3 separate regions of the Homo sapiens genome follow, and regions 1 and 2 are each linked to region 3. The links come from fine-mapping of genetic effects on gene expression. A gene starts in region 3. Each other region holds a variant in brackets. All regions are shown on one strand. Distances are from middle to middle. Region 1 overlaps SYNGR1 (synaptogyrin 1). Region 2 overlaps LOC100506472 (a long non-coding RNA gene). Region 3 holds the start of SYNGR1 (synaptogyrin 1).

Region 1 (7,594 bases), 21 kb after region 3:
GTCTCTTGGACTGAATTACCGCCTGGTGCCCCTCCCAGCGCAGTGCCAGGAGCTGAGAAACTTGTGACCTGTGATGAATGCCTGACCGAGGCGGGTGTCTGCTGGGGCCATACGGCCCCGCCCAGTCCCTCCGAAGCTATTCTGTTCTTGCTCTGCACCCTCTTGGGGACACATCCTCTCCAGCACTTTCCTCCTGGCTTCTCTGAGGACTGCCTGCCTCTGTCTCCCAAGAGAGCCCAGTCTTAATGGTTCCTCCTCTGCTGTCCCCAGGGCCCAGGCTTCTGCCTGCCTGTTTCCCCTCCCACCTCCTCTCTGTCTTCAGGGAGCCTGATATTGTTCTGTTTTTGGAAGGAGATCCACACTTATTTTCAGCGCTGGCAGCAGTGGGGTCTCCTCCAGCCCCCGGAAGCATGTGTCTGTTAGTAAGTGTTCGAGAGGGGCCTTCCTGGTGTTATTCCTCTTTTCTGGGGCCTTGAGAGAGGAAATGAACGTTATGCAGCCCCTATGGGGCTTCCAAAGCTCTGCTCTGGGTACTTGCTCTAATTCTCCCATCTGCCCCAGAGGGGATGTTAATTTTTACAGAGGACCAATCTGAGGCTCGGAGAGGTTAAGTCACTTGCCTGAGGCTACCCAGCATAAGCAGCAGGCCTTGGATTTGAATTGGCGGGTCTGTATGATTCCTCAGTGTCTGAAGTCTCTTTCTGATCAGGAGCCTTTTCTGTTCTGGTTTGGTGGCATCTGGTGACATCCAGGACTGGGCCTCAGGTTCCCAACCTGACAGTTTTCTGGTAGGAGCCTTGGACTTGTTGCAGTACACCAGTGCAAGGGGTTGTGTGACTAGCAGTCCCTGGAGTTGTGCAGTCCACGGCCCAAGCAGCTGGCCGTGTACTGCACATCTCCCAGTGTTCAGAGTCTGCCTTGCTTGTCTTGGTTTGTCAGTAGCTCAGGAGCCCCTTTGACAATGGCTCTGTCCTGACTTCACAGGCGCTCCCCACTGTGCCTCTGAGCACCAGACTTGAGACTGAATCGAGTCGCCTGATCCCCAGTCACACTGAAGCTACCCTCCCGGCCTTCCTCCCTGCTGGTCCTCTGCCTGATCCCTTGGGTCTCTGGGAGTAAATTCCATCCCTTCTTCAGGGCCCACCTCCAGAGGCTGAGAGTCAGCTTGGCCAGGTGGAAAAGAACACAGGTCTGGGAATCAGGAGACCTGGGTTCAACTTCAGCCTGTGCTGCTGACAACAGTGCCACCTTCTCTTTCTGAGCCTTAGTTTTTCTACTCTGCCAATTGGGAACACTACAAATAGCCCTCTCCACTCTAGGGGTGATGGTGAGGCTGCAGAGCCTGTGGGAGGCAGAGCTGTGGGCCCCGATGCCCTCACGGGTCTGAAGTCTCATGGTCATGGGGTTTTCCCAAATCAGGACTGGCAAATGGTGGCTCACGGGCCACCACTGCCCACCTCTGTGCCCATGGCTGAACCATGGGCTGAACACAGCTTCAGAATCCTTTCTTTTTTTTACTGTGGCCAGATTAGCCTAACATACCATTTTAATGTTGTATAATTCAGTGTACATTTTTTTCTTTTTTATAATTTGTAATTTATTTATTGTAGAGATGGGGTTTTGCTGTGTTGCCCAGGCTGGTCTCAAACTCCCAGGCTCAAGCAATCCTCCCACCTCAGTCCCCCAAGTAGCTGGGACCACAGGTGCATGCCACCATACTCAGCTAATTTTTGTTTTGTTTTGTTTTGAGACGGATCTCTGTCGCCCAGGCTGGAGTGCAGTGGCGAATCTCGGCTCACTGCAACCTCTACCTCCCAGGTTCAAGCAATTCTCCTGCCTCAGCCTCCTGAGTAGCTGGGACCACAGGCACGTGCCACCACGCCCAGCTAATTTTCTTTATTTTTAGTGGAGATGGGGTTTCACCGTGTTAGCCAGGATGGTCTCAATCTCCTGACCTCATGATCCACCCGCCTCGGCCTCCCAAAGTACTGGGATTACAGGTGTGAGCCACCGCGCCTGGCCTATACCCAGCTAATTTTGGTATTTTTTGTAGAGATGCGGTTTTACAATGTTGCCCACGCTGGTTGTTCCTTTTTATGGCTGAAAAATTGTCCAATTTATGAATGTACCACACTTTGTGTCCCCATTCATCTGCTGTGCACATTTAGGTCAGAATCCCCCTTAACACACAACATCCTAACCCAGAGGTCTCTAACCATTTTTTTTTTTTTTTGAGACAATGTCCCGCTCTGTCGGCTGGAGTGCAGTGACACAATCTCAGCTCACGGCAACCTCCACCTCCCAGGTTCAAGCCATTCTCCTGTCACAGGCTTCCGAGTAGCTGGGATTACAGTTGTGTGCCACCACGCCCAGCTAATTTTTTGTATTTTTAGTATAGAGACAGGGTTTCACCGTGTTGGCCAGGCTAGTCTCGAACTCCTGACCTCAAGTGATCTACCCATCTTGGTCTCCCAAAGTGCTGGGATTACAGGCATGAACCACCGCACCTGGCCGGTCTCTAAACTTTTAATCGTGCTCCTTTCAGGAAAAATGTTTGCACCAATCCTCCCATTCAATGTAGATTTATTGGTTTCATATATGCTACTACTGTACTAATATATCCTGTGCATTATAAAATCCATGTAAACTATAGACATCTTACAGAGATAAGATAATATTAAGAATGCTTCTCATATTTTTCACATACCTGTCCTGGAATCATTACCCATCCTGGGCATCACCCAGGAAGAAAATATGCTCAACTCACATTGAAATTGTAGTTTCTGAGGCCGGGCGTGGTGGCTGACTCCTATAATCCCAGCACTTTGGGAGGCCGAGGTGGGCAGATCACCTGAGGTCGGGAGTTTGAGACCAGCCTGACCAACATGGAGGAACCCCATCTATACTAAAAATACAAAATTAGCCGGATGTGGTGGCGCATGCCTGTAATCCCAGCTACTCGGGAGGCTGAGGCAGGAGAATCGCTTGAACCCAGGAGGCAGAGGTTGTGGTGGACTGAGATTGCACCATTGCACTCCAGCCTGGGCAACAAGAGCGAAAGTCCATCTCAAAAAAAAAAAAAAAAGAAATTATAGTTTCTGGCCGGGCATGGTGGCTCACGCCCGTAATCCCAGCACTTTGGGAGGCTTGGGGCTGGTGGATCACTGGAGGTTAGGAGTTTGAAACCAGCCTGACAAACATGACGAAACTCCATCTCTACTAAAAATACAAAAAATTAACCAGGTATCGTGGCAAACGCCTATAGTCCCGGCTACTCAGGAGGCTGAGGCTGGTCTTGAACTCCTGGACTCAAGTGATCCTCCTTTCTCAGCCTCCTAAAGTGCTGGGATTACACACGTGAGACACCATGCCCAGCCAAAAAGCGTGAACTTTAGAGTCAGGTACCCTGGGTTTGAAGCCAGGTTCTGTCACTGACCAGTTGTGTGACTTTGGGTGTGTTAACAATAGCTGAGCCTTAACTGTCTTATCTGCAAAATGCTGATGGTGCAGGATGTATTGGCAAGCTATTGCTGCACAACAAATTGCCCTACAACATAAGGCTTATAACAAGAAATATTTGTTATCTGACAGTTTCTGTGGGTGAGGAATCTGCTAAGCTTGGTGCCACTGCCTCAGGGTCTCTCACAAGGCTATAATCACAGCATCAGGTAGGGCTGTGGTTTCATCTGAAGGCTCAACTGAGGGTAGATCCATTCTTTTTTTTTTTTTTTTTTTTTTTTTGAGACGGAGTCTCACTCTGTTGCCTAAGCTGGAGTGCAGTGGGGTTGATCTTGGCACACTGCAACCTCCACCTCCTGGGTTCAAGCGATTCTCCTGCTTCAGCCTCCAAAGTAGCTGGGACCACAGGCAC[G/A]TGCCACCACACCCAGCTAATGTTTTGTATTTTTAGTAGAGACAGGATTTCACCATGTTAACCAGGATGGTCTTGATCTCCTGACCTCGTGATTTGCTCACCTCAGCCTCCCAAAGTGCTGGGATTATAGGCATGAGCCACCATGCACCACGCCCAGCTCTTTTTTTTTTTTTTTTTTTTTTTTTTTTTTGAGACGGAGTTTCTCTCTGTCACCCAGGCTGGAATGCAATAGCACAATCTCGGCTCACTGCAACCTCCGCCCAGGCCCAGCAAACAGTTCTCCTGGGCTCAAGCAATTCTCCTGCCTCAGCCTCCCAAGTTGCTGGATGACAGGCATGTGCTACCACACCTGGCTACTTTTTGTATTTTTAGTAGAGACAGGGTTTCTCCATGTTGGCTAGGCTGGTCCCGAACTCCTGACCTCAGGTGATCCACCCACCTCGGCCTCCCAAAGTGCTGGGATTACAGGCGTGAGCCACTGTGCCTGGCCTGGGTGGATCCATTCTTAAGCTCACTGACATGGTATTGGCAGGATTCAATTACTTGTGGGTGTTGGACTGAGGGGCTCAGTTCCCTGTGGGCAGTTGGCTAAAGACCCTCAGTTCCTTGCCATGCAGTCTTTCCAAAGGGTAGTCCAAAACACAACAGCTTTCATCAGAGCAACCAGGGAGTGGGGGAGAAGAGGACGAGCAAGATGGAGGCAGAAATCCTTTGTCACTTACTCCCAGAAGTGATATCCCATCACTTCTTGCCATATCCTGTAGTGGGGTCAGTGAGATAGCATGTGTAATATACCCTTGGGATCATGCAGGGTGCCCTGTATCTGGCAGGATTGTGTCTATTGTTATTTTCTATTTAATACACACACACACACACACACACACACACATAGATAGATTTTTTTTTTTTTGAGAGTGTCTTGCTCTGTTGCCCAGGCTAGAGTGCAGTGGCTTAATCTTGGCTCACTGCAACCTCCACCTCCCAGGTTCAAGTGATTCTCCTGCCTCAGCCTCCCGAGTAGCTGGGATTACAGGCATCCGCCACCATGCCCAGCTAATTTTTGTATTTTAGTAAAGACGGGGTTTCACCATGTTGGCCAGGCTGGTCTCAAACTCCTGACCTCGTGATCCACCCGCCTCTGCCTCCCAAAGTGCTGGGATTACAGGCGTGAGCGACCACGCCTGGCCCGAGAGTTTTTTGTTTTGCTTTGTTTTGTTTTTTTGAGACAGAGCCTCTCTCTGTCACCCAGGCTGGAGTGCAGTGGCATGATCACGGTTCACTACAACCTCCACCTCCTGGGCTCAAGAGATCCTCCCCCTCATCTTCCCTGGTACCTGAGACTACAGGCACGCACCACCATACCTGGGTAATTTTTTTATTTTTTAGTAGGGGCGGGGTTTTGCCATGTTGCCCAGGCTGGTCTCCAACTGCTGAGCTCAAGTGATCCTCCTACCTTGGCCTCCCAAAGTGCTGGGATTACAGGCATGAGCCACCACCCCCAGCCCACTGTTATTTTTTCATTCATCACTCCATCTACTTGCCAGGCCTGGGTAGGGGCCTGAGACCCCAGACCAGCCCACAGCTCTGCAGAGGGAAGGAGAACACAAGATGGGGCCCGGCACATGCCAGCATCTGGAGGAGTCAGCCTGGGGGTGGGGGCTGGGCAGGTCCACAGCCCAGGAGGGCCTGTGGCTCCTTGTTCTTTGAGAGTCGGTCCAGTCCCAGGATATCTTGGTGTCAGGGCCCAGGAAGACCTTTAGGACCTGGCTGAGGGGTGTTGGAAGGGGCCACATCTATGGTCAGAGAGTCCTCAGTGCCTGTGGCTGAGGAAGGAAGTGATTGACCCCCACCTGGTGCTATGTGACCCACATAAGTTACCCTCCCTCTCTGGGGATCCCCCTCTGAAATGCCTGCTTAACCCGGGTCTTGTAGCTCACGGAGGGCCAGGCAGCAGGCGAGGGTGGCAGCCTCCCCGTCCCCTGGGTGGTGTGAGGCAGGGGTCTGCCCAGGTCTAAGGTGTGGCCCCACCCCCGACAGCTGTTCTCCATAGTGGTGTTCGGCTCCATCGTGAACGAGGGCTACCTCAACAGCGCCTCCGAGGGGGAGGAGTTCTGCATCTACAACCGCAACCCCAACGCCTGCAGCTATGGCGTGGCCGTGGGCGTGCTCGCCTTCCTCACCTGCCTGCTGTACCTGGCCCTGGACGTGTACTTCCCGCAGATCAGCAGCGTCAAGGACCGCAAGAAAGCCGTCCTGTCCGACATCGGTGTCTCGGGTGAGCCCCACCCAGCAGGTACCCCCTGCACAGAGTCTACAGAGGGCTGTCCCGGCCATAGGAGGCGGCTGCCACCCTTCTTCCCATGTTTCAGATGAGGAAATGAGGTGCAGGCGGGTGAAGGGATGGACTCAGGGTCACATGGCTGGCAGCAGGAAGGATGGGACCAGGACAGGGCCTGGGACCCCAAAATAACCCATGCTGCCCACAGGCAGGGGAGCGTGGATGGGATTCTAGTTCCTTCTAGTCTAAGGGACCCATGGATGGCACTGGGCATGTGCCAGCCCCCATGGGTTGGCCCGTGTTTCAGTGGCCTCTTCTGTGCCACCTCCCTGGGGCAGCCTCATGAGGACTAAGCAAGGCGGTGACTGGGTGCCCAGTGCACAGCAGGGGCCCTGGAGCCTCAGCCTCCCCACGCCTCCCAGCCAGACCTTGGCAGGACCAGGGCCTGGACCTGTGGAGCCAACCTGACCTGCTGCCCTTTGCCCTTCAGAAGCAGCCTTTGGCAGAGGCACCCTGACCTCTGCTCCGTGACTTCCAGGAATCTGATTGGTGGATGCTCTCAGTCAGGGGTCCGAACCCGAGGCTTCAGCCTCGCTGTTCTGAGGCTTGGGTCCCCGGACTGGGACCAACCCCTAGTTCTAAGCCTGGAGCTCTCAGGATAAGCCAGGCTGAAGGCAGGTCATGAGGTCTAGTTTTAGAAGGAACTAGAACTAAATGAATGGTTCTCAAACTTCCACAGAGCCTCAGGGTTCCCTGGCAGTGCCTCTGGGAGGTGGGCTGGGCCCCAGGTGGGCACCCCACCTGCTTGGCAGATGCACGCCTTGTCCTGAGCAGGTCTGGGCTTCTCTGGGGAGACCTTGGCACTCACAGGAGATTGCGTGGCTATGAGGCTCCCACTGCTGACGCCCCCAGGCTCGGCTCTCAGTGGGCCCCTCGCTAAACCTGGGGCTCTGTGGGGTCGCAGCACGTTAGAAGTCGAAGCCCAGACCCACCCAGCCAAGCTGCCATCCTTGCCCCAGCCTCGTCCTCCTTCCCATACCTCATTTGTCTGGCAGCCTGAGGGTTGGGGTCTTCCTGCCTGCAGAGTTGCAGGCATCAGGGGTGGACCGGGGGGGCCCACGTCAGCGGTGTGGCTGGACATGGGGGTTTGGCAGAGGCTGCAGAAATGCGGCCTGAGTTGATTACCTTCTTTCTCTGTCTCTCCCTCCATCCTCCCCTCTCACTGCCCGTGGCTCTCCTCTGACTGGCCCTGACCCTGCCCTGTCTGTGGCCTCCTCCCCCCTGCATCTGGCTGGCTTCCCTCTTCTCGCCTGCATCTTCTCTTGGCTCCCCTCTCTCTTCCCCTACCCCCTTTGCCTGTCCCTTTGGGGGTGGGGGAGCATGGGAGATGCACTCTTGAATGTCCCTCTGTTCCTCGGCTTCCCCATTTTCTCCCCACTCACCCT
Region 2 (7,594 bases), 89 kb after region 3:
CGCCTATAATCCCAGCACTTTGGGAGGCCAAGGCAGGTGGATCACCTGAGGTCAGGAGTTTGAGACCAGCCTGGCCAACATGGTAAAATCCCATCTCTACTAAAAATACAAAAAAGTAGCCAGGCGTTGTGGTGCATGCCTGTAGTCCCAGCTACTCAGGAGGCTGAGGCAGGAGAATCACTTGCACCCTGGAGGCGGAGGTTGCAGTGAGTGGAGATTGTGCCACTATACTCCAGCCTGGGCAACAGAGCGAGACTCCGTCTCAAAAAAAAGAAAAAAAAAAAGGAGTTCTAACTACGTTCCAGGTATGTAGCTGACGTGTAATATCTCATTTAACCTGGCAAAGAGTTGGTATCCGTGGCCTCAGAGAGGTTTAGAAAGTTGCCCAAGATCACACAGGAGCAAAGATTTAAACTCTGGACTTTTCTTCATGTGTCATGAAGTTTCCTCCTGATTTTCAGAGACCCTTCCAGGCCTGCAAGCGATTTGACAGCCATCCCTCAGTGCCAACTAAACCTCCTGGGCAGCCTGACCCCAGGGTAGGAAGGAAGCGCCTACACCAAGGGGCCCTCTGGGAGCTGAGATCATCCTGGGGTTTTGTCGCCTGGTCTGACTTGTGCACTGGGATCTTCTCGTGCCAGGCCAGGCCCCGCCCCCTCCCCGGGACTGGGCAGACCCCCTCCCTCATGCATCTGTGTCCACTGAGGCTTCCCTCACCTAGAATGGCCCATCCTTCAGGACCCAGCTCACTCTCATCTTCTTTCCAGGGACTTATCCCCCAAGGCTGTCCTCTGTTCTGGTGAGCTCAGGGCTCTTGGAACTTGGTCTGCAGTGACTCTGGGGTTCCTGGTTAGGACCCATGTTCTCTAGGTCCCAGCACCCTGCACGGGGCAGTGTTTGTGACACTGGGCCCAGCTATTCTGAGAGAAGGACTCCAACCTTCCATCAGGTGTGGCCCGAGATGTGGGTGGCCCTGGGCATGGGGCATGGATGCATTGTGACTTTCATGGGCCTCTTCTGCAAAAAAAAAATTAAAATTATACTTTATGACTATTGGTAGAAAGATAAATATATTAATACATTAAAATTTCTCTTTGAGTAAAAGTTCATTTTCTTCTGTTTTAAAGGTAAAATATTTCCACAGCCCCCTGAAAGGATGGTGGGCCCAAGGGTTCATGCCTGCTGCACCTCATCAGGAGGGTGGCTGTGAGTCGGGGGGACCAGCGGGGCCTAAATCAGCCTCTTCAGTGCGGTGGCCTGCAGCTAACGTCCCCATCCCAGCCTTCCTGAACTTTCAACCACCCTGGGGCCTCAGACCCAGGAATAAGATTCGAGAACCGGTAGGGGGAGCTGAGGTGGGAGAATCGCTTGAGCCTGGGAGGCGGAGCTGCAGTGAGCCGAGATCGTGCCACTGCACTCCAGCCTGGGTGACAGAGTGAGACCCTGTCTCCAAAAATCCAAGAAACTTTCAAGAACAGGTGGAAAGAAATCCGGAGATGACAGAGAGGGATGTCCCCTCCCACTCTGCTCCTTTCCTCCGAGCCTTTGCCATGGCTGTGTTGGCTTCCTGGTGTGCCCTCCCTTTACCTCTAGCCAGCAACAAAGCCTGCCGGGCACCAGGCACCAGGTGTGCCGCCAAGTAGGGGCTGAGGCTGGCAGGGTGGGGAGAGGGGAGGCCGTCAGAAAGTCTCTGTTAATACTCCGGCCCTGCAGGGGCTCAGTCTCTGCGGAAGATAAAACTACACCTGGAAGTCTGGCCAAAACGGCCAGAATGGGCCCTGAGACCCAGGCCAAGGGGAGACCCCTTCTGTCTGATGAGTTCCGGAACCTTCCCAGAGCAGGTGGGCTCTGCACCGGGCCCTGGAATGCTCCTGAGGGGTCTGGGCTTCCTGGGACTGACTGCCAGGCTCCTCCTGTGCTGGCAGCTTTGCTAAAGATGACGGGCTAAACACATTCGTCCACTTTCCCTCCCTTCTCAAACCCCCTTAAAACAACAGGGAGGGATTTCTCCCTCCCTCTGCTCCCGCCATCCATCCCTCCCTCCCTTCCTTCTTCGTTCCCTCCATTCCTCCTTCCCCCTTCCCTCCCTCCTCACTCCCTCCCTTCCTCCCTTCCCCCTTCCCTCCCTTCCTTCCTCCTTCCCTCCATCCCTTCCTCCTTTCCTCCCTCCCTTCCCACTCCCTCCTTCCTTCCCTTCTCCCTCCCTCCCTTCCTCCTTCCTTCCCTCCCTTCTCCCTCCCTCCCTCCCTTCTTTCCTCCTTCTTTCCCTCCCTCCTTCCCTCCCTCTCCCCTCCTCCCTCCCTCCCTTCCTTCCTTCCAGGTATAAACCCACAAGGTTGTAGCAATCAGGAGACAACATCCACACAGGTTTTGAAGCTGAAAAGTCGATGTAGAGTGGCAACTGACTTAAGGGACACAGAAGTTACATCCCAGGTGTGTGATGGCAGCTGAATACCAGTGTGGTTTACCCTGAAGAACCACCGAAAGCTCAGCGTGAGCCAGCAGTCCCAGGTGGGGGCAAAATGAGGCGCAGTCAGGTCCCCCGGTCTCCCACCCAGAATGGCCAGGCAGTCCCGTCCTCCGCTCACCAGAGTCCACCCAGAGATAGCGGCACTGCCACAGCACTGGAAGCAGAGCAGTCGGGTGCTTCTGGGCACTGGGACCCCATTTGCCCTGCCCAGCTCCCAGCACACAGCCCAGTCTTCACCCTCCAGCAGGACACTGAGGCTCCTCGCTGGAGAATCTGACGCACAACAAAGTCCTGAAAATACTGACATGGGGGGTCCCTAACAAGTACCCCCCACCTCCCTTCAGTGAAATCAAGAGTCTGTGTATCTAGAACTTACTTTCTTTTTTTTTGTTTTTGTTTTTGAGATTGGGTCTCGCTCTGTTGCCCAGGCTAGAGCGTAGTGATTCAATCTTGGCTCACTGCAACCTCCGCCTCCCAGATTCAAGTGATTCTCCTGCCTCAGCCTCCCGAGTAGCTGGGATTACAGCCACCACCACACCCAGCTAATTTTTGTATTTTACTAGAGACGAGGTTTCACCATGTTGGCCAGACTGGTCTTGAACTCCTGACCTCAATTGATCCACCCGCCTTGGCCTCCCAACCCACCTCAGCTTCCCAAAGTGCTGGGATTACAAGCATGAGCCACCATGCCCAGCTGTATCTAGAACTTTTGATAAGCAAAGTGAATGTTAAAAGATAGAAGGAACCAGCCATTACCATATGAGCCAGCAATTCCACTCCCAGGAAACACAAACATACAGAAACAGTACGGAAGTGTTCACGGCAGCATTACTCATCATAGCCGAATGTCACAAGCAACCTAGATATCCATCCGAAGAGGAGAAGCAGACTGTGCTGCCTCCACGCCACGGAATAGTATTCAGCCGTGAAAAGGAATGACACTGACAGGCCACCACAAGGAAGAGCCTCAAAATCACTGTGCTAATGAGAGAAGCTGGTCACAAGAGGTCACATGTATGATTCCTCCTACAGATGCCGGTGATAGGCAAATCCATAGAGACAGAAAGCAGGGCTGGGGGAAGGAGGAAACTGCAGAGACTGGTAACAGAGCCAGCGTGTTTTTCTGGGGTGAGGTGTTGGTGAATGCATTGAGTGCCACTGACCTGCAGTTTTCAAGCGGTTAATTGTATGCTATGTGAATTTCACCCCAGTGAAATTGAGGAACCAGCCCAAGGCTTCCTCTGCTTGGAAGGAAGAACTCTAGGTGGCTCCTCTGGACTCACAAAGCACCTGAATTGGTCCTCTAGGATGAAGAGTCCAGAGAGAGAGTGTGAGCCTCACGTGCCGTTGTATTATTTCATTTCATTCCACCTTATTTTATTTTATTTTTAAGACAGAGTCTCACTCTGTCACCCAGGCTGGAGTGCAGTGGTGTGATCACTACTCACTGCAGCCTCCACCTCCTAGACTAAAACGATCCTCCCACTGCAGCCTCCCAAATAGCTGGGACCACAGGCATGCAGCACCACACCCGGCTAATTTTTTGTATTTTTCAGTACAGTCGGGGTGTTGCCATGTTCCGCCTGCCTCCCAAAGTGCTGGGATTACAGGCATGAGCCACTGCTCCTGGCCCATGTGCCATTTTATTTATTTATTTACTTAGAGATGGAATTTCGCTCTTGTTGCCCAGGCTGGAGTGCAATGGCATGATCTCGGCTCACTGCAACCTCCGCCTCCCAGGTTCAAG[C/T]GATTCTCCTGCCTCAGTCTCCCTAGTAGCTGGGATTACAGGTGCCCGCCACCACGCCCAGCTAATTTTTTGTATTTTTAGTAGAGACGGGGTTTCACTATCGTGGCCAGGTTGGTCTCCAACTCCTGACCTCAGGCGATCCACCCACCTCAGCCTCCCAAAGTGCTGGGATTACAGGCATGAGCCACTGCTCCTGGCCCATATGCCATTTTAGATGTTCTAATAATCACATTTGAAAAAGTAAAAAGGGGCAGGTGGATCGCTTGAGTCCAGGAGTTTGAGACCAGCCTGAGCAACATGGTGAAACTTCGTCTCTACTGAAAAATACACAAAAATTAGCCAGAGGTGGTGGCACACATCTGTGGTCCCAGCTACTCAGGAGGCTGAGGTGGGAGGATCATCTGAGCCTGGGAAGTCGAGGCTGCAGTGGGCCATGATCATGCCACTGCACTCCAGCCTGAGCGACGGGGGTAAAACCTTTTCTCAAAATCCAGCTGTATTTTACCCGTACAGAATAATTCTGTGCAGGCCAGCATGATCTGGGCTTCATGGCTATGGCTCGAGGTCACACCAATGGATGGTCCAGTTCTAGACTGTTTCAGACTGGAGGCTCTGTATACTCTGAAGAGGATGAGAGTTTTAAATTATAGTGCATTTTAAGTCTATGAATTAAAAACAAATAGGCAGCTGGGTGTGGTGGCTCACACCTGTAATCCCAGCACTGGGAGGCTGAGGTTGGTGGATCACCTGACGTCGGGAATTTGAGACCAGCCTGGCCAACAGGGTGAAACCCCATCTCTACTTAAAATACAAAAAAATTACTCAAAAAAAAAAAATTAGCTGGGTGTGATGGTGGGTGTCTGTAATCCCAGCTACCTGGGAGGCTGAGGCAGGAGAATTCGCTTGAACCCGGGAGGCAGAGGTTGCTGTGAGCCGAGGTCATGCCATTGCACTCCAGCCTGAGCAACAAGAGCAAGATTCCATCTCAAAAAACAAACAAACAAAAAAACCCAAATAGGCTATAATCCTCTTTAGGATCATCTGAATAACCACCTTAAAAATTAGTCTTGAGCAACCATAAAAAAGAATGAGATCACGTCATTTGCAGGGACATGGATGCAGCTGGAGGCCGTTCTCCTTAGCAAACTAACACAGGAATAGAAAACCAAATACTGCATGTTCTCATAAATGGAAGCTAAATGATGAGGACACACAAACACACAGAGGGGAACAACACACTGGGACCTTTCAGAAGGTGGAGGGTGGGAGGAAGGAGAGGATCAGGAAAAATAACTAATGGGTACTAGGCTGAGTGATGAATTAATCTTCACAACAAACCCCGATGACACACACTGACCTATGTAACAAACCTGCACATGTACCCATCAACTTAAAAGTTTAAGCTGGGCTCAGTGCCTCACAACTATAATCCCAGCATTTTGGGAGGCTGAGGCGGGTAGATTGCTTGAATCCAGGAGTTTGAGACCAGCTTGGCTCAGATGGCAAAACCCCATCTCAGGCCAGGCGCATGGCTCACGCCTGTAATCCCAGCACTTTGGGAGGCCGAAGTGGGCAGATCACGAGGTCAGGAGTTCAAGACCAGCCTAGGCAACATAGTGAAACCCCGTTTCTACTAAAAATACAAAAATTAGCCGGGCGTGGTGGTGGGTGCCTGTAGGCCCAGCTACTCGAGAGGCTGAGACAGGAGAATCACCTAAACCCAGGAGGCGGAGGTTGCAGTGAGCCGAAATCATGCCACTGCACTCCAGCCTGGGCAACAGAGCGAGACTCCATCTCAAAAAAAAAAAAAAAAAAAAGTGGGGGCGAGGCTGGGCACAGTGGCTCACGCCTGTAATCCCAGCACTTTGGGAGGCCAAGGCGGGCGGATCACCTGAGGTCAGGAGTTCGAAACCAGCCTGGCCAACATGGTGAAACCCCATCTCTACTGAAAAAAACAAAAAACAAAAATACAAAAATTAGCCGGGTATGGGTGTGCGCCTGAAATCCCGGCTACTTGGGGGGCTGAGGCAGAAGAATCACTTGAACCCGGCAGGTGGAGGTTTCAGTGAGCTGAAATTGTGCCACTGCACTCCAGCCTGGGCGACAGAGCGAGACTCTGTCTAAAAAATCCCCCAAAAAACCGTCTCTACCCAAAACACAAAAAAATTAGCCATGTGTGGTGGCACGTGCCTATGGTCCTAGCTACTCTGGAGGCTGAGGTGGGAGGATCACTTGAGCCCAGGAGGTGGAGATTTCAGTGAGCCAAGATCATGCCACTGCACTCCAGCCTGCGGAACAGAGCGAGACCCTGTCTCAAAAAAAAAAAAAAAAAAAAAAAAGATTAAACATTAGTTCTGAATTAAACATTGAATTACCATACGACTCAGTAATTCCACTTCTGTGTATACACCCAGAAGAACTGAAAGCAAAGTCTCAGATGCTCGTGTGGCAATGTTGGTAGCAATATTGTATACATCAGCCAAAAGGTGGAGGCAACTCATCAATGGATGAGATGTCCATGGATAAACAAAATGCGTTCTATCCATACAATGAAATATTATTCAGCCTTAAAAAAAAAAGAAATTCTGACACATGCTACAATGTAGATGAATCTTAAGCACATTATGCTAAGTAAAATGAGGCAGTCACAAAAGGACAAATACTATACGGTCTCACTCAGACGAGGCACTTATGGTAGTCAAATTCAGAGACAGAAAGTAGAATGGGATTGACAGATGCTGGGGGGCAGGGGAATGGGGAGTTAATATTTAATGGGTGCAGAGTTTCAGTTTTGCAAGATGAAAATCCTGCTGGGCCAGGCTGGCTTGGTGGCTCACGCCTGTAATCCCAGTGCTTTGGAAAGCCAAGGTGAGTGGATCACCTGAGGTCAGGAGTTCCAGACCAGTCTGGCCAACATGGCAAAACCCTGTCTCTACTAAAAATACAAAAATTAGTCGGGCATGGTGGCTTACACCTGTAATCTGAGCTACTCAGGTGGCTGAGGCACAAGAATCGTTTGAACCCGGGAGGCAGAGGTTGCAGCGAGCCGAGATCATGCCACTGCACTCCACCCTGGGCGACAGAGCGAGACTCTGTCTCAAAAAAAAAGCATTCTGGAGATGGACGGTGGTGATGGTACCATACAAGGTGAATGTACCTAATGCCACCACACTGTGTGCTAAAAACTGGTTAAAGTGGTAAATTTTGTGTTACGTAGATTTTACCACATTTTTCTTTTTTAAAGTTTGGCTACCCAGTGGATTTGTGCTGACCAGGGCATTGAGACTTCATAGTCACTGGAGCTAATGAGAAAAGATGCGGGGAGACTTTGGCCAGGTGTCGTCCAGGCACTGCCTCAGCCAGGCCTCCCAGGCTGG
Region 3 (6,442 bases):
TTGGGCATCTTTTCTTTTCTTTCTTTCTTTCTTTTTTTTTTTTTTTTTTTTTTTTTGAGACAGAGTCTCGTTCTGTCGCCCAGGCTGGAGTGCAGTGGCGCGATCTCGGCTCACTGCAAGCTCCGCCTCCCGGGTTCACGCCATTCTCCTGCTTCAGCCTCCCGAGTAGCTGGGACTACAGCCACTACACCCGGCTAATTTTTTTTTTTTTTTTTTTGTATTTTTACTAGAGATGAGGTTTCACCGTGTTAGCCAGGATGGTCTCAATCTCCTGACCTCATGATCTGCCCGTCTCGGCCTCCCAAAGTGCTGGGATTATAGGCGTGAGCCACCGCGGATGCTGGGCATCTTTTTATGTGCTGAGTTGCCGTGTGTATATCTTCTTTGGTGAGGTGTATAACTATTCAAATCTTTTGCCCATTTTTTAAAAAGTGGGTCCTCTTATTATTATTGAGTTCGAACGTTCTTTATTTGGGATGCAAGTTCTTTAGATCTATGCTTTGCAAATATTTTCTCCCAGACTATCGTTTGTCTTTTCATACATTCTTTTAACAATGTCTTTTAAAGAACAGAAGTTCTTAATTTTGATAAAGTCCAGTTTATCAATTGTTTCTTTTATGAATCATGTTCTTCATGATTTTTTTTTTTTTTTTTTTTTTTTGAGACGGAGTCTCGCTCTGTTGCCAGGCTGGAGTGCTGTGGCGCGATCTCGGCTCACTGCAACCTCCACCTCCTGGGTTCAAGTGATTCTCCTGCCTCAGCCTCCCAAGTAGCTGGGACTACAGGAGCTCGCCACCACGCCCGGCTAATTTTTGTATTTTTAGTAGAGACCGGGTTCACCATGTTGGCCAGGATGGTCTCAATCACTTGACCTTGTGATCCATCCACCTTGGCCTCCCAAGGTGCTGGGATTACAGGCGTGAACCACTGCGCCCGGCCTTCTCTTGTGCTTTCTTCTAAAAGTTTTATATAGTCATAGTAGACACCTTATAAGTGTGCTGGATTAAATGTGAAAATGTATGTAAAGCCCTTAGCACAAGGCCTGGTAGAGACTAAACAATCAGCTGAGCCTAAGATGGACATTGACTATGTAATTTTTATAAGGAGCACCCTCAGGCCCAGCACACATTTCCTCCACACAGATGTTGTGTCCTGTCATCACAGAATGGCAGGATACCAGAGAAGCAAAAGCCTCCACCCATATCCTCATCCAACCTGCTCCTGGAACCAGTGAAGGTGACTGCAGACATAGAGAGGCCATAGAGCTACAGGGCAGCAGGAGAGCCAGCCCTGGAAGGTGGCCCTTCCCCTGCAGGGAGCACTCCTCCATCTAGCCTCCGTTTCCATGAAACCTGGAGGTCTAGCCCAAGCTGTGATGGGGTGATGGGGACTAGGCTCTGTTTACTGAGCACCTACTGTATGCTAGGCCCTTGGGTAAGGCATTGAATAAGTTAGACAACACCTGGGCCTCGGGAGCTCACAGACTAGCAGCAGAAGAGGCCATGAACAAATGATTGCGTAATTAATTGCTAGATTCAGGAAAGGGGCAACGTTCTGGGGTAGGAGGGGATGGGGAAGAGGAAGTCTCAGCCGCCGCCTCTGTGCCAGGCCCCTCCAGGCTGGGGGTGGGAGGGTGCGCGGGCACAGGGACACACATGACGTCATCGTAAGAGGCAGGGGAAGGGTGGTCCTGGGAGGTGGGGGCTGCTCTGGAGGGCTGTAAGAGAGGGTCATTCACTCGTGGTTCATTCATTCGAGAAATATTCATGCGGCGCCTACTGCGTACCAAGCACCCTCTAAGAAGGACGAACACAGCTCCTGCCCTCTCATTATATTTGGGGCCGACAAAGTGGCAGGAAACAGCCAAACAAATCAAGCGTGAAGATGGTTTCAGCAGAGCCGACGGCTCAGAGGGGCTGCGACCGGGGCAGGGGACCGGGGATGCGGGGCAGGGACACGGCCCACACTTGCTGTGCACGCACCGCCCTCCCCCAAACACTTTGCAAAGAGGTCACCGCACTGGCTGCGAGCGCGCCCTGAGCCCCGGGCCGCAGCACGCGCGCCCCCGCGCCCGAGGTCGCGCGCTGCCCAGCCCCCCGCCCGCGCCCCGCGAGCTGCGCCCGCCGCGCACGACGCCCCCTCGCGGGAGCCCTGGGCCGCCGGCCGCGCGCGCAGGGGAGGGGGCGGGGGCGCCGCGCACGCGCACGGGCCGGCGGCGCGCGCCGAGCGGGGGGCACCGCGCGGGTGCAGCCACGATGGAAGGGGGTGCGTACGGAGCGGGCAAAGCCGGGGGCGCCTTCGACCCCTACACCCTGGTCCGGCAGCCGCACACCATCCTGCGCGTCGTGTCTTGGGTAAGGACGGACTGGCCGACGGCTCTGCCAGGCCGGGGTGGTGGGGGTGTGAGCAAAGGCGGCGCGCCCGGACCGACCCCGACCCCGACCCCAACGGGCCCCCGGCGGCGGCGCGGCGGCGGGCGAGGAGCTGTCCTGCCTGCGGGGCCCGCTGCCGCCGCTCCTCCTTCCCGGGCCCGGGGCGGGCGGGATCCCTGGTGCTCGCGGGAGACGCCGCTCCGGCTCCCGGAGCCCTGGTTTCCTGGGGCCCCCGGTTCGTGCGCCCCCCTTCCCGCCCCGATTGCTGTGACCTCCAGGCCGCGGCTATGCCGCGAAAGGCTCGGATTGTGCGCGGCCGCCAGGGCGGACTGGGGACCGTGGGGACGGAGCCAGGGTTTAAGGTGGCCTTTTTTGGGGGGTGGATCAGGGCGTGGACCATCTCGGTGGGGTGCATGCCGCGCCTGCGATGGACGTTGGAGGAGGAGAGGGCCGGGAACCGGGTTCGTATTGCCTAGCCCGGCCCGTGTGGAGCGATGAGTCGGGAACTGAGTACCTCTCTTCCACCCGGGAACTGCCTCTCCTTCTCTGCGTGACCTTGGGCTGGGAGCCACCCAGGAAATGTTCTCGAGAAATGAGGACTTCAATTCCGAGGTGGGGAGTGTCATCTCCTCTCTCATGCCTCAGTTTCCCAATTTATAGACAAGGTGGGCGGAGCCTTCTTGAGGCCCCCTTGGGCTCTGACATTTCATGAACCGGTAACACCCCTCCCACTCAGCATGCACCTGGATGCCCAAGGCGGGTGTCTGGGAGAAAGGTCTGCTCCCACAGTGAAGAGGCCAGGGTGGCCTCCAGCCTAGCTGGGGGGCAGGGTCCTCAGTGCAGAGGGCTGAGTGGGCTCTTGTTCAGACGGGTGGTCAGGGAGAGGATGGGTCAGAGACAGTGAGCACAGAGGGAGGGGTTCAGGTGCCTTGAGTGGCACCTCATGGAAAGAAGCCCTGCTGGGGTCTGGAGAGGGGGTTTCTGGGGCTCCCTGGGTTTGGCTGGCTGTATCCCAGAAACTCCCACTCGAGGTTCTGGCCTCTGCAGGCCTGGGGCCCGTTCCTTGTGGGCTTAGACTAGGAATGGGCTAGACTGTCAGGGACCCCAGGGGCTACCCCAAGGCCAGCTGTGACCTCAGGGTGCCCAAGCTTCCTCCTTTCCTTGGTTTTCAGGGTCTGGTTGGTAGGATGGCTTGGGTATGTATCCCTGGTCTGCGAAGGATGACCCCATTTAAAGCCTTTTCTTCTCAAATGCCGTCAGATGGGAGCTGTTTGAGGGCAGGAAAGCCCAGTTCCTTTAACCCTTGTGTCGGTGCCTGCACAGAGCCGGGCACCCCAGCACATCTGTGTTTGTGGCTCTGAATTCATTTATCTGTGCCAGTCTCCTGCTCCCCAGATGCCCCAACAGACCCTTGCCAAAGGTGGGAGCCCTGGGGGGCACCTGCCGGATCAGGCGGGTGGGCTGCGTTCACTGCTTTAGTCTGCCCACCCCTGGGCCTCTGGCCTGGAAGGGCGAAGCCACTGGCTTTGTGAGGGGGCTTGTCTGCTTGGGTCATTTCTGCCTCTGATGCCTTCATTTAGCAAAGCTTTATTGAATCTGCTGGGCCCCAAGGGAAGGCAGCGTGACTCAGAAGCAGCCCTTGTTCTCGGGAAGCCACAGTCCCACTGGGGAGTGAGCCAGGTGCCCCCAGGCAGAGGCCGCAAGAGCCAGGAGAGGGGTCTCCCTGCTGTGGAATCAAATTTCATGGTGAAGGTGATGTCAGATTGGGCCTGGTGGGATGAGGGTTTATACATATGCACATCCAGGGGAGAGGACGTGGAAAGCAGGAGGAAGGATCAGCCCCTCTGAGCACCCATGGGGTGCAAGACCACACACAGCTACCTAGCTGGTTCCCCAACACTAGAGGAAGCTGCGGCTCAGCGAGCGAGGCCAAGTGCCTGGCCCAAAGTCACTAAGCATGTAAGTGGCAGACGAGCATTTGAGCCTAGGTCTTCCTGTCTCCAAAGAGTAGTTCTCCCCCTGGGGCAGGGAAGAATCCAGAATCCTGGAATGTCAGGATTGGAAAGGACACAAAGGTCACCTGGACCAACCAATGCTCAAACGACCCCACAGCCTCCCAGTCCTGCTCACACACGTGGATACAAGGCGCTCACTACCTTTGTCGAACCAAGAGGTGTCTGATACAGGCTGATTGACACCTTTAAAAGTAGCTTTTTTTCCTGATCAGAGTAATACCTGCCAATTATTGGAAAGTATAAAAATCACATGTGATGGTTGCACGGTAGGAATGTACTTAACACCACTGAAATGGTGAAGATGGTAAATTGTATGTTACGTGTGTTTTACCACAACAGAAAAAGTTTGGTGGGGGGTGGTAATCATGTGATACCACCACTTAGGGAGGGCTGCAGTGAATAGGGTGCTGTCTCCTTCTGGTCTTTTCGAAACTGTGTGGCGTGCTGAGCCATTTAAACACATCAGGAGCTGCGGGGGATGCAGCTGGCGCCTGCTCTTGGCCCTCACACCACAGGGCAGAGCAAGTGAAGCTGAGCTCCAGGACCAGGGTGACCCGTTTATCCTGGTGTGCTGGAACTTCCTGCCTTTAGCATTCTGAGAGGCCCTTAGTCCAGACAAACAGGGACAATTTGTCACCCTGTCCAGGACTCCTGGACAACCCAGACCCCTACCACAGCCCTGGAGGGGCCCTAACAGCATGTGCACATGAACCTGTGATTGTTTTTTTTCTTTTTTTGAGATGGAGTCTTGCTCTGTTGCCCAGGCTGGAGTACAATGGTGCCATCTCGGCTCATTGCAACCTCCGCCTCCCAGGTTCAAGCAACTCTACTGCCTCGGCCTCCCAAGTAGCTGGGACTACAGGCACACACCACCACGCCCAGCTAATTTTTGTATTTTTAGTAGAGATGGGGTTTCACCATGTTAGCCAGGCTGGTCTCGAACTCCTGACCTCAGGTGATCCACCTGCCTTGGCCTCCCAACGTGCTGGGATTACAGGCGTGAGCCACCGCACCCGGCCTGGACCTGGGATTTTTGTAAAATTTGTAAAAGAAAGATTTTTTTTTCTGTTGCTTTTCCAAAAGAGGGCCCCCAAATCATGTAAGCTTCAGGGCCTCACCAACCTGGACCCACCCTGGAACCCAAGCCCTCTGAGCCCCTGGGTCAGCCTGCACAGAAGCAGGGCCTCCAAGACCTGGCTTGTCTCTTTTTTATTTTTTTAGAGACAGGATCTTGCTGTGTTGCCCAGGCTGGTCTCAGACTCCTGGACTCAAGTGATCCTCCCACCTCAGCCTTGTGAGCAGCTGGGACGATGAGGCGAGGCGTGGGCCACTGCATCCGGCATGGCTTGTCTCTTGACTAAGGCTTTCTCACCTCTTGGTGTCATCGCCCCAGTGGCAGATCAGCTGCCACTCCTGGCACCCCCAGGCCACAGCTGTGACCTTCAGTAAGTGTCCCCTCCCCACCCTCTGTGCCTCAGTCTTCCCACCCGAACTGGGCTGGGCTGGGTCAGAAGTGCCTGATCTGTTGCGCGGTGACTGCCGCCTGTCAGTGACTCATTTCTTTGTTCTAAAGCCAGATGGGAAAAAAAGGAGTTACAGCAAGAAGCTAAACTGATTTAATAGAAAGGACCACCTTTTATTTGGAGTTTATATTCTTTTTTGCAGGGGGCTAAGATGGACTATAGGGAATGAATATCAGTGCTGGCAGATGAGTTTTTTGTTTGTTTGTTTTTTGTTTTTGAGATGGAGTCTCGCTCTGTCTCCAGGCTAGAGTGCAGTGGCGCGATCTTGGCTCACTGCAACCTCTGCCTCCTGGTTTCAAGTGATTCTCCTGCCTCAGCCTCCCAAATAGCTGGGATTACAGGCACCCACCACCATGCCCAGCTACTTTTTAAATTTTTAGTAGAGACGGGGTTTCACCATCTTGGCCAGGCTGGTCTCAAACTCCTGACCTAGTGATCCACCCGCCTCAGCCTCCCAAAGTGCTGGGATTACAGGTGTGAGCCACCGTGCCCAGTCAATGTTTCTTTAATTCTCTACTTTGACAAAATGAAA

What was found. PIP is the estimated chance that this variant, and not a neighbour inherited with it, causes the effect.
Region 1: its variant is the best candidate, but not a certain one, in a credible set for the expression of SYNGR1 in whole blood (INTERVAL, PIP 0.85).
Region 2: its variant is the best candidate, but not a certain one, in a credible set for the expression of SYNGR1 in whole blood (TOPMed, PIP 0.87).

Annotation. Positions count from the first base shown.
Region 1 is chr22:39,368,408-39,376,001 of GRCh38, forward strand. It overlaps SYNGR1 (synaptogyrin 1), which reads left to right. Exons shown (of 4, transcript NM_004711.5): 2 at 5,909-6,146. Among named protein-coding and RNA genes, the nearest start is that of SYNGR1, 22 kb to the left of the region's middle. RefSeq lists an enhancer at 5,507-6,022. The variant G/A (reference allele first, on the strand shown) is at 3,872.
Region 2 is chr22:39,436,029-39,443,622 of GRCh38, forward strand. LOC100506472 (a long non-coding RNA gene) reads left to right here. Exons shown (of 4, transcript NR_040535.1): 4 at 1-1,100. It also overlaps a transcript of TAB1 not described here. Among named protein-coding and RNA genes, the nearest start is that of MGAT3, 17 kb to the right of the region's middle. The variant C/T (reference allele first, on the strand shown) is at 4,218.
Region 3 is chr22:39,347,756-39,354,197 of GRCh38, forward strand. It overlaps SYNGR1 (synaptogyrin 1), which reads left to right and starts at 2,236. Exons shown (of 4, transcript NM_004711.5): 1 at 2,236-2,354. The coding sequence starts at 2,256. RefSeq lists a silencer at 2,283-2,442 and an enhancer at 3,666-3,715.